2 separate regions of the Homo sapiens genome follow, and region 2 is reported to be linked to region 1. The links are microRNA targets in miRTarBase. Many come from high-throughput screens and were not tested one by one. Region 1 holds a microRNA gene; the other region holds the end of a gene's coding sequence.
Evidence for each region. Region 1 holds the annotated microRNA hsa-miR-324-5p (CGCAUCCCCUAGGGCAUUGGUG, at 2,448-2,469, opposite strand). A microRNA usually pairs through its seed, bases 2 to 8, with sites in the 3' UTR of a target mRNA and lowers its output. Matches are read on the target gene's strand: a 7mer-m8 pairs with bases 2 to 8, a 7mer-A1 pairs with bases 2 to 7 and ends in A, and an 8mer does both.

Region 1 (7,448 bases):
TGGATGTGGGATCCTGTGCCTTCCCCAGGAAGTGAACGATCCCGCCAAGAATGACGCTCTGGAGATGGTGGAGGAGACCACTTGGCAGGGCCTCAAGGAGCTGGGGGCCTTTGGTCTGCAAGTGCCCAGTGAGCTGGGTGGTGTGGGCCTTTGCAACACCCAGGTGAGGGCGCCCTATCGCCACATCCCAGTATGCCATACCCCAGCTTGGCAGACTCAGCTCTTTTGCCATAGACCTAGAGACTAGGGCTAAGGTCTCTTCTAAGCACCTGCCCTGGGTGCCTGTGGGATGGATGTTAACTGTCCAAACATAACACAATTTACATGCAGTCCCCTAGGCCTGAGCCATGGGCCTCACCCTGGTTCCCAAGTCCTTACAAATCTCTAAGTTGGGGATTGCCTAACAATAGACTGACTAGTAGCAAGTCACCCTCCTACCTAGACCTAAGACAGACCAGCATTCTCTGCTGTGCCCTTTGCACACCCCACTTCTTTTCTACACACTGGGGATGGCCCAGGTCAGGCACTGCCCTAGGTCAGGAACTGCCCTAGGTCAGGAACTGCCCTGTTGCCCACACTCTCCTGTTAAGGTCAGGTCCCCCTGCAGCCAGTGACAACCCCAGATTCCTGCTTCCCCTCCAGTACGCCCGTTTGGTGGAGATCGTGGGCATGCATGACCTTGGCGTGGGCATTACCCTGGGGGCCCATCAGAGCATCGGTTTCAAAGGCATCCTGCTCTTTGGCACAAAGGCCCAGAAAGAAAAATACCTCCCCAAGCTGGCATCTGGTGAGGCAACCCTAGGAGAGCCAGGGATTGGGGGGCACACTGGGCTTGGCACAGATTAGGCCAGTTGGCACTTAGATTATCAGATGGCTGAGCATTTCAGTTGGGGGAAGGTTTTGGGGAGGCATCACAGTGTGCTGGTTGGGACATGCAAAAGAACTGGATACTCCCAGGTGTTAAGGGGGAACTGCCTGCTGGAGGGATGGGGAAGTGGGCCGAGGGGACTTTGAAGCTCATCAGAACTTGGGGTAAAGTAGCTCTCTCCCCAACAGGGGAGACTGTGGCCGCTTTCTGTCTAACCGAGCCCTCAAGCGGGTCAGATGCAGCCTCCATCCGAACCTCTGCTGTGCCCAGCCCCTGTGGAAAATACTATACCCTCAATGGAAGCAAGCTTTGGATCAGGCAACCTGCCTCCCATTTCTCCCCTTCTCCTCCGCCCAATTCCAGGCCCCACTGCTCCCCGTCCTCCACGCCCTGAATATCCCATTCTTCCACAGTAATGGGGGCCTAGCAGACATCTTCACGGTCTTTGCCAAGACACCAGTTACAGATCCAGCCACAGGAGCCGTGAAGGAGAAGATCACAGCTTTTGTGGTGGAGAGGGGCTTCGGGGGCATTACCCAGTGAGTGAATTTGGGTTGGGGGAGCTTAGGACTGAGGGGCAGGACTGGGCTCCTGGGCAGATGGCTGTTGCAAGTCACCCTGGGGACGTGTGCAAAAGCCAAAGCAGGTGGACTGAATGTGGCCTTTGGGACTAATATGTATGCAACTGAGCTAAAGTTTTGGCTCCAGCAACCAAGTCCAACACAAAATAGGACATAGCCAGGCCTCCTTAGCCCTCAGGGCCTGAGGGGAAGTGGTGGCTGTAGCCTCTAATAGTCTAGTGGTCGTCATTCCTCCCTGGTGCATAAGGAGCGAAGGAGCAGTTTTTCCCCCAGTGACAACCTGTTGAACACACCTCTGCTTTCCCACACTGCCCTGACACAGTGGGCCCCCTGAGAAGAAGATGGGCATCAAGGCTTCAAACACAGCAGAGGTGTTCTTTGATGGAGTACGGGTGCCATCGGAGAACGTGCTGGGTGAGGTTGGGAGTGGCTTCAAGGTTGCCATGCACATCCTCAACAATGGAAGGTTTGGCATGGCTGCGGCCCTGGCAGGTACCATGAGAGGCATCATTGCTAAGGCGGTGAGTACCCTGCCCGAGTCCCTAGGTAACCCAAACAGAAGTCTCACTGTCCCCCTTGCCATGTGTCCCTGATCACTTGCAGGCACTCCCTACACTAGAAACTCCTCCCCTACCAGCAGCCCGACTTGCTAGCTTAGGTCTCCATCCAGCGTAGACTGAACTCTGGTTGTATGCAAAACCCATCCCTCTGGCGCAAGCCCAGCCCCTCTCCTAGGGAGACTGCAGAACCACACTGAACCACAGCGGGATGTGTGGACCCTCTTCCAGGTAGATCATGCCACTAATCGTACCCAGTTTGGGGAGAAAATTCACAACTTTGGGCTGATCCAGGAGAAGCTGGCACGGATGGTTATGCTGCAGTATGTAACTGAGGTGAGGGCCTCCCAAGCCCCTCTCCCTGGAGCCCTGGGGCTTTCTTCCCAGTCGGGTCAGACTACAACCCCCAGCAGCACCTGGGGCAGTGGGTCTCCAGCTTTACACCAATGCCCTAGGGGATGCGGGGAGGCATAGTCAGCTCAGCTTCTGCGAAGAGAGACAGCAATGATGTTCTGCTCAGGTGCCTGCCAGCAGTACCAGAAGTTAATTCTACCTCATCCCTTACATCCACCCCTTTTAAGAAAACAAATACCTGGAAGCACCTGATGAACTGACCCAGAACAAGTATCTGCCTGACCTGACAAGCTAGGTCAGCCCTTATCTTGGAGATCTGGGTGATGAGGCCAAGTCTGACAAAGCCCTTTGCAATTTTCCTTCCCATGTCCCAACTATGCAACCTCAGTCCATGGCTTACATGGTGAGTGCTAACATGGACCAGGGAGCCACGGACTTCCAGATAGAGGCCGCCATCAGCAAAATCTTTGGCTCGGTGAGGTCCCAGGCATGCTGGGAGGGAGTCCAGTTTGGGTGCTCAGCTCCCAAAACCAGTCTCATCTGTTCTTTGTCCCTAGGAGGCAGCCTGGAAGGTGACAGATGAATGCATCCAAATCATGGGGGGTATGGGCTTCATGAAGGTACAGGACGGTCTTCTGCAGAGCCTCGGCTGGGCCAGGGGTGGGTAGGCACATCTCAGCACGGGCATATAATTTGTGTGGCCCTGTGCTAGGAACCTGGAGTAGAGCGTGTGCTCCGAGATCTTCGCATCTTCCGGATCTTTGAGGGGACAAATGACATTCTTCGGCTGTTTGTGGCTCTGCAGGGCTGTATGGTAAGACAGAGAATTGGGTGGGGGTAGAGGTGGGGAGGACAGTGAGTCCTGACTGCTGGACCCTCTTCCCCCATAGGACAAAGGAAAGGAGCTCTCTGGGCTTGGCAGTGCTCTAAAGAATCCCTTTGGGAATGCTGGCCTCCTGCTAGGAGAGGCAGGCAAACAGCTGAGGCGGTAGGCTTAGGGCCAGAGCCAGGGGAGGGCAGGGTGGTGTATGGCAACTAACCAGTCATTCTCCCTCTTCCTCTCAGGCGGGCAGGGCTGGGCAGCGGCCTGAGTCTCAGCGGACTTGTCCACCCGGAGTTGAGTCGGAGTGGCGAGCTGGTAAGTGGCCAGGGGTCCAGGAGAGCCTGCATCAGGGACTGCAGCCGATGGCCCCTCTGAGCCCCGCACTGTCCCCATCTCTTAAGGCAGTACGGGCTCTGGAGCAGTTTGCCACTGTGGTGGAGGCCAAGCTGATAAAACACAAGAAGGGGATTGTCAGTAAGTGAGCTCTACACCATTCCGCCCCTCCCTTTCCTCTCCTTGAGACTAATGCCCCCACCCCCACCCCCACCCCACCTACCGGACAGATGAACAGTTTCTGCTGCAGCGGCTGGCAGACGGGGCCATCGACCTCTATGCCATGGTGGTGGTTCTCTCGAGGTGAGGAGGCAGGCAGGGAATGCCTGAGCCGCAGGGGGCCTGGGCCTGGATCCCAGCCGGCCCAGATTTATTTTCATCTCCTGCTTCCTGCCAGGGCCTCAAGATCCCTGAGTGAGGGCCACCCCACGGCCCAGCATGAGAAAATGCTCTGTGACACCTGGTGTATCGAGGTGAGACTCGGGGCTGCCAAGCTCAGGTGAGGGCTGGAGGTGCAGGCCCAACCCCTCCTTCCCTCTCCCCAGGCTGCAGCTCGGATCCGAGAGGGCATGGCCGCCCTGCAGTCTGACCCCTGGCAGCAAGAGCTCTACCGCAACTTCAAAAGCATCTCCAAGGCCTTGGTGGAGCGGGGTGGTGTGGTCACCAGCAACCCACTTGGCTTCTGAATACTCCCGGCCAGGGCCTGTCCCAGTTATGTGCCTTCCCTCAAGCCAAAGCCGAAGCCCCTTTCCTTAAGGCCCTGGTTTGTCCCGAAGGGGCCTAGTGTTCCCAGCACTGTGCCTGCTCTCAAGAGCACTTACTGCCTCGCAAATAATAAAAATTTCTAGCCAGTCATGCTTTGCTCCTGTGTGACGGTTCTTTCCCCCTGCTGCCTGCCTCCCTCCCAAAGAAAGGAGCCAGAGGCGTGGGGAGTTTGCCTCTATTGCTTTATTTGGTGTTTTATACAAGTGACTAAAATAAATAGAGTAACAAAGGCAGCTACATGGCCCAAATCTCCCAGCTTCCTCAGGCTGCTGTCTAGGATGCCTAACCCCGGGGTACCGCTGACCACCCCCAACCCTGCAAAGGGCAGGGCTGTGGGTAACTGGAGGAGGAGGTCACATTCTGGGGTTAGAAGGGGCCCAATGGATGGGAATTCTTCATATAAAAGAGGAAATGCCTATTAAAAAAGTCCCAAAAATGTAAGAAACTCTATTTTAACCCCCAAAAAGGCTTATAAAAAAACAAAGCTAAAAATAATCAAAGGTCCCTTGTCTACCCCTGAGGGAAGGGGGAGGAACCAGGCACTGCTGGTGAGAGTCACAGTGGCCACAATCTCCTGTATGGCAGCAGCTGGTAGGCTGAGCCCAGGCACTGTAAGAGCAAGCACATGACGGCCAGGACACCCAGTCACACACCAGGAGCGCCCGGCCCAGCCTGGCCCCACAGTGGGCTACATAACATCCACAAAGAACTCGCTGGGATTGCCCATGGCCATGTGGAAGCTTTGGCGGCTGGCTGTCAGTTCTGGGGGCACAGAGCCCAGGTCTCTGACTGGAGGGGCCCCCGGAGGCTGCACTGCTGGAGGGACTGGAGGTGGAGGTGGGGGCATCATGACCACCATCATGGGGTTGTAGGGGAGGGCCATGCCAGGGGGCGGTCCATAGGGATGGAGCCCTGGGTGGGCTCGGAGATTAGGGGCACCCCCAGTTGAGCCTCTGGATGGAGGAGGGCCCCCATCGCTAGTCCCACTTGCTTCCCCACCCCGCCGAAGGCTGCCCCCTCGGCTGGAGGGCTCAGACTCACTGCCACTGCCGGACTTGGACTCGGGGGCCCGCTCCTCGGGCCTCCCCGTGCGCCCTGCCCCCCCATCACTCCGTGTCGACCCACTGCTCCGGCTGCCTGTGGAGGGAGGGGAGGGGCAACTGAGTCCTCACCCAGGCTCCTCCCTGGCTCCCCTCTCATCCACCCTCAGATCCTGGCCGTACAGGTATGTGGGGATGACTTACCCTCACTATGCTGGCTGCTGGCACTGCCCCCACCATAGGTGTAAGATGAAAGCTCATGGTAGGGTGGAGGCTGCGGGCTGTAGGGGTGTGGGGCAGGGTATTGGTAGGAGAAAGTGGGCAGCAGGGGCCAGGGGGTGGCCCCAGGCAGAGGAGCCAGGGTATCCTGGTCTGAAGCCCCACTGGAGCCATCGTTGTCATTGAGAGACAGGTTGACTAGGTCTGGAAAGCAAGGGAAGAGAGGAAGAAATCACTGCTTCAAGAGGCTAGGGCCCCAAGACACCGAATGGAGAGGAACTGGGAACAGTTCTCCCAGACCCACCCACGATGGGGCTCAAAACAGGGGTTCACAAGGGTCTCTGACAAGAAACTCCCATCTACTTCTGCCATGAGGGCAGGGGCACAGCCACTAGCCCACGTCTTTGCGGGACTCAGGTAAGAGGTGCACCTTCCCCCGGTGGACACAGTCCTGCACCTGGCACATGGCTTGTCCAGCAGCACATGGGTGGACGTCAGCCCCCATCCTCGGCCAGTGCAGGACCTAGTGCGGGACACACACTGCTCGACCATCCATGGTGGCCCTGGCTGCGGTTTCTGGGCTAGGTCTAGGGTTGGAGAGGCAGAACAAGGTAGGCAAAGCCACACTCCCAGAGTTGGGGCAGGGGGACTTACAGCTCTCACAGCCACCACTGAGGTCTCCGAAGACGTAATAGCACTGCTCAGAGAAGGTGATCTTGTTGACGGTGTGTCGGATCAGGCCTGCTTTGAGCAGCCCGCTGGCATACTTGCGGGCCTCCCGCCGCTCAGGAAAGCCCTCCACGTGATGGTAGAGCCAGTCAACCACATCCGAGCCTGGGAGCACCCACAGTGGAAAAAGGCCTCAGGTTCTTCTTCCAACTCCTGCTCTCGCCTCTGCCTGTGCCATTCCTGGCTTTGGTCACCACCTCCTCCCCTTCTCCAGCCACCTGCCCAGGACCCAGCCATACCCAGAAAGGCATTAGGGATGGTGATCTTGAGCCACATGCGGTCCCGGACTTCCAGTCCAGACTCTGGAGCTGCCATGGCCTTGGTCACCGATGCCATGTCCGTATGGACGGAGAGACCCCGGCCTTCACAGCCTGGCAGAGGAGACAACGGGTAACCAGAGTCAGGGATCGCTCCCACAAGGGCAATGGATCAGACCACTGCGGGACAGCCTTCTGCTGGGAGGGTGGGATGAGGTGGGCTGGCGGCTCACCATCAGGCAAAGACGATCCAGATGTAATGGTGCTCATGGAGGAGGAACCTGGATAGGCTGGGAAGGTGCCAGTCAGAGCCGCGGAATGGGACACCCAGGCAGCAGGGTCAATTGGCTGGATGGGCTCATCTGGGACAAAGATGGCACCAAAATGACCCATTCTCAGTCCCCAAAAGCCAGCCCAGTCCCTCCCTGACTCAGCCTCCTGTTCCACCTCTGCCTGGACCCTCCTCCCACCCATTCCCCATGACCACAGGCCCGGCCCCAGCCTCCTGGGCAGCCCCCACCCCCAACTTCAGGCCCCTCCCTGAGTGTCACTCACTTCGGGGGAGAGTGAAATAGGCCTGAGGAGAGGGATCCCAGCACTTGGCCACAGTCAGCACAATGGGGCTATGGGGAAGAGAAGTCCAGTCAAGGGCGCAGGGGAAGAGGAGGCCTCAGGAGGGCGGGGGTCTGAAGCAAGGATGGATTAAGAGACACAAAGAGGGGGAGAAGCAAGCACATCGCGGCTGGGCTAGAGAAGGTGAGGGTGGAAGGCACCACAATGTGGATGACTCATCAACATGGAAAACTCTTAAAAACATACTGCCAAGTGAGACAAGAGAGTACACGCTGTACAGTTCCATTCACAGAAAGTCCAAAAACAGGTAAAACGAAACTGCAGTGTTCAAGGATACGTGCAAGGGTGG
Region 2 (7,196 bases), not on the chromosome of region 1:
ACCCGTTACTCTCTGTTCCTATCTCCCGTCCGCTCTCTCTTTGCTTCTCACATGTGGTTAGGGCCTGCAAGTGTCTCAGGGAGAGAGACAGCTGCAGGGAGCAGAGCTGGCAGGCCCAAGTTGGGGCAGCTGTTGAGGTGTTGGGGCAGCTGGCAGGCTGCTGGGGCTGTTCTGGGTCTCGGATGGAAGAGGGCAGGGAGGAAGGTTCAGCCTGGAGCAGAGGGCTTCCTCTGCATCTCTGCATCGCTGAGCCCAGGACTTAAGGGGCCCGGAGCTGTACTGTTCCCCTCAGAGAAGGTCTTCTCCAGGCCTGGGGTAGGGGTGACAGTTGGGAGCAAAATAACTTTGGCCCCTGGCCCCCTTTAGGAATCCTACGCCAACGTGAAGCAGTGGCTGCAGGAGATTGACCGCTATGCCAGCGAGAACGTCAATAAGCTCCTGGTGGGCAACAAGAGCGACCTCACCACCAAGAAGGTGGTGGACAACACCACAGCCAAGGTAGCAGACGGGCCGGTCTGCCCGGGGTCGGGGCGCTGGGGCCTGCTGCCCCTCACCTGCTCTCCCCTCCTCTTCTCTCCCCTCCTCTTCTCTCCTCTCCCTTGTCAGGAGTTTGCAGACTCTCTGGGCATCCCCTTCTTGGAGACGAGCGCCAAGAATGCCACCAATGTCGAGCAGGCGTTCATGACCATGGCTGCTGAAATCAAAAAGCGGATGGGGCCTGGAGCAGCCTCTGGGGGCGAGCGGCCCAATCTCAAGATCGACAGCACCCCTGTAAAGCCGGCTGGCGGTGGCTGTTGCTAGGAGGGGCACATGGAGTGGGACAGGAGGGGGCACCTTCTCCAGATGATGTCCCTGGAGGGGGCAGGAGGTACCTCCCTCTCCCTCTCCTGGGGCATTTGAGTCTGTGGCTTTGGGGTGTCCTGGGCTCCCCATCTCCTTCTGGCCCATCTGCCTGCTGCCCTGAGCCCCGGTTCTGTCAGGGTCCCTAAGGGAGGACACTCAGGGCCTGTGGCCAGGCAGGGCGGAGGCCTGCTGTGCTGTTGCCTCTAGGTGACTTTCCAAGATGCCCCCCTACACACCTTTCTTTGGAACGAGGGCTCTTCTGTCGGTGTCCCTCCCACCCCCATGTATGCTGCACTGGGTTCTCTCCTTCTTCTTCCTGCTGTCCTGCCCAAGAACTGAGGGTCTCCCCGGCCTCTACTGCCCTGGCTGCAGTCAGTGCCCAGGGCGAGGAATGTGGCCAGGGGATCCAGGACCTGGGATCCAGGGCCCTGGGCTGGACCTCAGGACAGGCATGGAGGCCACAGGGGCCCAGCAGCCCACCCTTTCCTCTCCCCACTGCCTCCTCTCCCTTCCTACACTCCCAGCTCGAGCCGTCCAGCTGCGGTGGGATCTGAGTATATCTAGGGCGGGTGGGCGGGTAGCAGTGCTGGGCCTGTGTCTTGAGCCTGGAGGGAGTCTGCTCCTGCCGCCCTCTGCCCTGCCAGAGACAGACCCATGCGCTGCCTGCCCACCGTGCCCCTTTGTCCCCATGTCAGGCGGAGGCGGAAGGCCCACCGTGCCAGAGGCTGGGCACCAGCCTTAACCCTCACTCTGCTAGCACCTCCTCCCTTTCCCCAAGGTAGCACATCTGGCTCACTCCCCACTCCGTCTCTGGAGCCCACCAGGGAAGGCCCTCATCCCCTGCCGCTACTTCTCTGGGGAATGTGGGTTCCATCCAGGATTGGGGGCCTCTCTGCTCACCCACTCTGCACCCAGGATCCTAGTCCCCTGCCCTCTGGCACAGCTGCTTCCTGCAAGAAAGCAAGTCTTTGGTCTCCCTGAGAAGCCATGTCCCTCGTGCTGTCTCTTGCCTGTCCCACCTGTGCCCTGCCCTCCAGCTTGTATTTAAGTCCCTGGGCTGCCCCCTTGGGGTGCCCCCCGCTCCCAGGTTCCCCTCTGGTGTCATGTCAGGCATTTTGCAAGGAAAAGCCACTTGGGGAAAGATGGAAAAGGACAAAAAAAATTAATAAATTTCCATTGGCCCTCGGGTGAGCTGAGGGTTTTTGCAAGGAAGTTGTGGTGGCCAAGTGTGGTCTGTGGTCTAAGCCCAGCCTTGGGGTGGGGGGATGGAACTGGAACCCTGGGCTTGGTGGGGTGCACGGGGGTCCTGGCTTGGTTTCTGTGTCCTAAGGCTGCTGGCAAAAGCCCTTGACCCCGTTTCCTGAGGCCAGGAAAGCTGCTTGTGCTTCTGTGGTCTGTCCCCAAGGGCCCAGCACCGTTCTGTCAGGGAAAGAGGCAGGCGGCCATCAGCTCATACCTGGCGTGCCGCCGCCAACTCCCGCGGGGCACACGGCAGAGGTGTGGGGTCGCGCAGCCGCTGAGAGGGCCCCCACTGCACCTGGCCCAACCTCCTTCAGCGCCCCCCAAAACCCCACTGCTCCCATTCAGCCCCTGTCCTGGCGTCATTGTGTGTCCCAGCCAGGTGCTTCTGCCGTCTCCGACAGTGACAAGTGCCTCGCACTTCAGCCTTTGCCCTGAGCGCCCGCCCGAGGGGGCCGAGTGCGGCTGTGCCGGTGGCTGGAGTGCCGAGGGGTGCGGGGTGCCGGGGGCGGCCGCGTCTACGCTGTCCGGAGGGTGAACGGCCGCGGGCTTGTCGGGGCTGGGGGTGGCGCCCGAGCCGGGCGGGCAGACGAGGGGCCCGCGGAGACCCAGCCCCGCCCGAGGCCGCTCGCGCGGCGGCCCCGCCCCCGGCTCCGCCCCGCCGGCTTCGCGGGCTGGAGAGCGAGGGAGCCGCGGGCGAGGGATCGCAGGATGAGCGATCGGGGCCCGGGCAGCCGGCAGCGGACGCGCCCCCCGAGCCCACCGGCCCGCGCCCCGCGCCCCCCACGGCCCCGCGGTCCCGGTCCCGGCCGCATCACCCACGTCCCCCGAGCCCCACGGGCCATGCCCGGCCGGCCCTAAGCGCGGGCCGGGGGGCGTCCCCTTGCGCCCGGGCCCCGCGCTGGCGCCCCCCGGGCCGCCGCCCGGCGCGGGGGCCATGGCGTTCACCTTCGCCGCGTTCTGCTACATGCTCACCCTGGTGCTGTGCGCCTCCCTCATCTTCTTTGTCATCTGGCACGTAAGGCCGGGCTGGGGCTGGGGCTGGGGGCGGGGTGGGGGGCAGGGGCCACGCGGAGCTGGAGGGACCCAGGGCGGGTGGTCTCAGAGCCCAGGGGAAACTTGCTATCCCCCAGCCGTCGGCTTGTCGGCTTCGCCCCCATTAACACCCCCCGTGGTCGGCTTTCTTCCCGGGGCCCCCCTTCCTCCGCCGCCCCCGCCTGTCTGTGTGTATGTCAGTCGGTCTCTGACCCCCTCCTCTGCCCTCGTCCTCTGCTCCCATGCAGCCCGTGAGGTGGGGGGTGGAATTCTGGCATTTTTGTTGCTTTATCTTCTATGTCCCCCCCCACCACCATCCAGCCGCCTCCATTAGTCCGTCGGGCAGTTTGTCTGTCTGCTGCCCCCCCCCCCCCGCCTTTGTGGGTTTTTCCAGCCAGAGTGATGGAGCTGGTTGCTATGGCAACTGCATCTGTTTACAGGACCCACAGATCTCAGAGTCCATTAACCCTTTGCCTTCCCAGCCCCCTCCCTGACCAAGCAGCAGTTGGCTCTCATCAGCCCCCAGAGACCTAGCCCCCACCACCGGCTCACCTTGGGTTTCCCTACCCCTCCTGTTGGGGGCTTCCCAGCCCCCCAGGTTTCCTCTCCATTTTCCAGCTTCCCTCCTCTTCCTGTCCCCCTTCCCCTTTGTCTCTCACATACCCCTTGGTCTGTCCCTCGCCCTGGCCTAGCCTCACACCTGGTTCTTCAAAATGTCCATTCCTCATCCTGCATCCGACCCATCGCTTCCCCCAGGCTCCCTCCTCCTCCCCTCCCGCTCCTCTCCTCCAGGGCCTCCTCTGCCTGGCTCCCGTCCCCTCACTACAGAACTATCAATCAGCCTCCAGCTGGTTGTTGGGGGCCCCTGGCCCCACTTTACTGCCCTCCGTCCCCACCCCCACCCAAACCCCGTGCCTGTTTCTGTAACAGCCTGCCCAGCTCGGCCCTGGCTGGCTCAGCTCAGCATCCTCTGCTCACACCTCCCGCGCACACCTCCCTGATTGTCATTCCCTTTCAGGGGTCCTCTTATCCCTCCCTCAATCCCATTTCCCATAGCCCTTCCCTCCTTCCTCCCGGTGCCTCACCTGCTTCTTTCCCGGGCTCTCCACTTCCTCTCTCCTTTCTCTTCCTGGGACCTGCCGCCTGCTCCATGGTTCCCCCTGCGCTCCCTTTGCCATCCCCTGCCACCTTGCTCTTTGACATCGGGAATCCATAGACTGAACCCCTACTGTGTGAAGAGTGAGCCCCCAAAGGCACCTCAGCACACACCCCAGCTCCAGCCCTGTCACTCCTTGGCCTGGCTCTGCTCTCTCTCTGGGTCTTGGTTGCTTTGTCTTTCCCCCTCTCCCCCGCACCCCGAGTTACTCTATTTTTCTTTCTGTGGGGTAGGGGCAGGAGGGCTAGGGTTCTAAGGACTGGAGGGAGCTGGGGGCCACAGGCTAGGGAATGCAGAGCTGACCAGCTCCTGGGAGAAGGGCTCCTGGAATTCAAGAAGCCTCTTTTTGGGGCCTTCCCCACCCAGGGCCTTCCCACAGCCCCTGTGGGGTCCCTGTCCTCAGGGGATCCTCAGCAGTTTATCCACCACGCCTGCATTGATGCTTCCCAAAGATCAGGCTCTGGGTGGCTTTGAGGGGGTCAAGGATGAATAAAACCCAGACTTTGCCCTTGTGGAGTGCCCAGGCTGGGAGGAAAGGCCCAAGCTTTGAAGAAATGTCTTTGTTCATTCAACAGATATTGATTGAGCACCTGTGTGAGGTACTCTGTCCACTCAGCCATTTAGCTGGACAATCTTAGCAAGTCATTTGTCCCAAGTCTGGTTCCTCGCCGGCAAAGTGGACCTGTGCACATCAGAGTGCCTAGTGCGGCCTGCTGGGTGGTAGGGGATAGGAGGCGTGGTCCTCAGTCCACAGCTGCTAAGAACTAGACTCTTAACAGGGCGGGACCCCAGATCCCACTCCAGACCCTCAGCCCAGGCCCCAGTGGTTCCTAGGCAACCCTGGCGGTGAGTGACGCGTGTCAGCTGTCACCATGGGGGATTGTTTGTTCCGGGGGGCTGAGTCAGCGCCAGGCAGCCTGGGGGGTGGGAGGGGTGACGCCCGCCGCCTGCTGGTGGTGCCAGCTCTGGGGTACAGACGGCACCCTTCTGCTCCCTGTGGACCCTGTTGCTGTGCGTGCCAAGTGGCGCTGCCCAGAGTCAATGGGGAGCTGGGCGGGGAGGGGGGATGATCCAGATGGCCTCAGCTCCCTCCAGGAAGCCCATGTTCTTTCTCTCTGAGCCGTCTGGGGCCTGGGATGCCTGGGGGTGGTGGGCCTGCTGCCTCATCCTAGGGCTGGAGCCGACAGGAGGGGACCCCAGCAGGCTCCTCTGCCAGCCCATTTCCCCCAAGTCACCTGTCAGCTCCTTCCCATCCCATCATCCCCTCAAACACTTGCTCCCCTGGAGAGTTTCCACCCGTGAGGACACTGCCGTCTGCCAGACACCCCAACACCTGAAGCCACCTTAGATTTCTGCCTTCACTTCTCAGCCATTTGAACCCTCTGGAGTCTGGCTCCTAAAGAGCTGTAGAATCCCATGCACGCCTTCCGTCTCCACTACAACTCTCCTCACTCAGACCACCATCAGCCCTGCCCCTAACCCTCCAAACCGTCCCCTTGCTGGTCTGGCCTGAGTATGACACAGTGGTTAGGAATTTTAACTCTGGAGTCACACTGGGTTAGAATCCACTAACCAGCCGTGTGGCCCTGGACAAGTCACTTAACCTGCCTCAGCTTCCTCATCTGCAAAACAGACATGAAAATAAAACTAGTACCTAAGTCATAAGGTTGTTAAGAATTAAATGAGTGAATCCACATACCGGCCAGGAGAAGCACCACTTAGATCTCAGCTGTGACTGTCAGTGAGCTCGGATTTCCTGCCCCACCAATCCTGAGACATGGACCAATCCTAAGACATGGACCTGACCACCCCACTCTGCTGCTGTGTACTCTTCAATGCCTCCCCCCAAAATTTTTGTGTTAAAGTAAGTCCAAACTCCTGCTCTGGCCTCACAGGGCGCCCATGTCTGGCTCTGCTGAATTCTCCAGCTCCTCTTCCACCACTCTCTCTTTTCTTCCTGCTCGCTGCGCTGTCACGCCAGCCCCATGAAACCCGCAGCCTCCTGAATGTCTCCTGACCTTTCACCCCTCTGCCATTGCACCTTCTACTGCTTGGACTGCATTTCCCCCATTTGCTCACCAACACCTACTCCGAGTCCAGCCTGAACTCCCTCACCCCCCACACAGGGTTAAGCGCCCACTCCAGGTCCTCCCTGTACCCCAAACCCTGATCACCTGGAAGGCAGAGTGATCATCCCTCTGGGCCTGGGTTCCTCCTGGGCAGGGGCTGCATCCCAGGCCTCTGGAGCCCCAGTGCTCAGCACAGGGCCTGAGACTTGGCAGGGCAGACACGAAGCCATGTCTTGGGATGTTTTGGAAGGGGGTGTAGTGGACATGGGCCTGAACTGGGCATCCAGACGCTAGGGTTCCCTTCTGGACTGTTGTAATGACCTTGGACCAGGCCCTGCTCCTCCCTGGACCTCGGTTTCTCCACCTTTGCAACAAGCTCCACCTGGCTGGTCCTCTTCAGTAAACTATCCCACAGAAGGACTTGGGGGAAGGCCATAAGCTGCTGCCCCAACCCTGACGGGCACACGCCCCTCCCCCAGATCATAGCCTTTGATGAGCTGCGGACCGACTTCAAGAACCCCATCGACCAGGGGAACCCTGCGCGGGCAGTAAGTGATACATGTGCTGTGCCGAGGTGTGTCCGTCCGTCTGTCTTTCCATCTGTCGTGGGCTGGGGGTGGGAGACGGGAAGACGGGGGTGGGGTGGGGGGCCTACGGCCATGCCCCCTTCCTCTCTGTCTCCGCCCCCAGCAAACACCTGGCGCGGGCTCAGGGCTGAGTTCCTCTTGGCGGGGCGGTGGTTGCCAGGCTCTGGGCCGTTGCCATGGAGACGCGGGTGAAGGCCCTTCCATGGTGACGGTCGCCATGGGGACGGCGCGGCTGCTTCCCGGCCGTGCCGACAGTGCCGCAGAGAT

Region 2: miRTarBase lists RAB1B as a target of hsa-miR-324-5p. The part of its 3' UTR that is shown has no 7-base or 8-base seed match.

Annotation. Positions count from the first base shown.
Region 1 is chr17:7,220,896-7,228,343 of GRCh38, forward strand. MIR324 (microRNA 324) reads right to left here and starts at 2,484; the gene lies at 2,402-2,484. It overlaps ACADVL (acyl-CoA dehydrogenase very long chain), which reads left to right. Exons shown (of 20, transcript NM_000018.4): 6 at 29-163; 7 at 643-787; 8 at 1,057-1,186; 9 at 1,282-1,407; 10 at 1,772-1,970; 11 at 2,238-2,342; 12 at 2,749-2,835; 13 at 2,918-2,980; 14 at 3,073-3,174; 15 at 3,251-3,348; 16 at 3,426-3,498; 17 at 3,585-3,657; 18 at 3,747-3,819; 19 at 3,914-3,989; 1 more. The coding sequence ends at 4,202. It overlaps DVL2 (dishevelled segment polarity protein 2), which reads right to left. Exons shown (of 15, transcript NM_004422.3): 10 at 7,082-7,149; 11 at 6,760-6,888; 12 at 6,509-6,640; 13 at 6,195-6,374; 14 at 5,526-5,744; 15 at 4,447-5,418. The coding sequence ends at 4,970. RefSeq lists an enhancer at 4,061-4,560.
Region 2 is chr11:66,275,438-66,282,633 of GRCh38, forward strand. RAB1B (RAB1B, member RAS oncogene family) reads left to right here. Exons shown (of 6, transcript NM_030981.3): 5 at 367-498; 6 at 607-2,055. The coding sequence ends at 801. CNIH2 (cornichon family AMPA receptor auxiliary protein 2) reads left to right here and starts at 2,738. Exons shown (of 6, transcript NM_182553.3): 1 at 2,738-3,100; 2 at 6,822-6,890. The coding sequence starts at 3,020. It overlaps LOC107984340 (a long non-coding RNA gene), which reads right to left and starts at 3,088. Exons shown (of 2, transcript XR_001748274.1): 1 at 3,058-3,088. RefSeq lists a silencer at 2,514-2,843 and an enhancer at 7,009-7,196.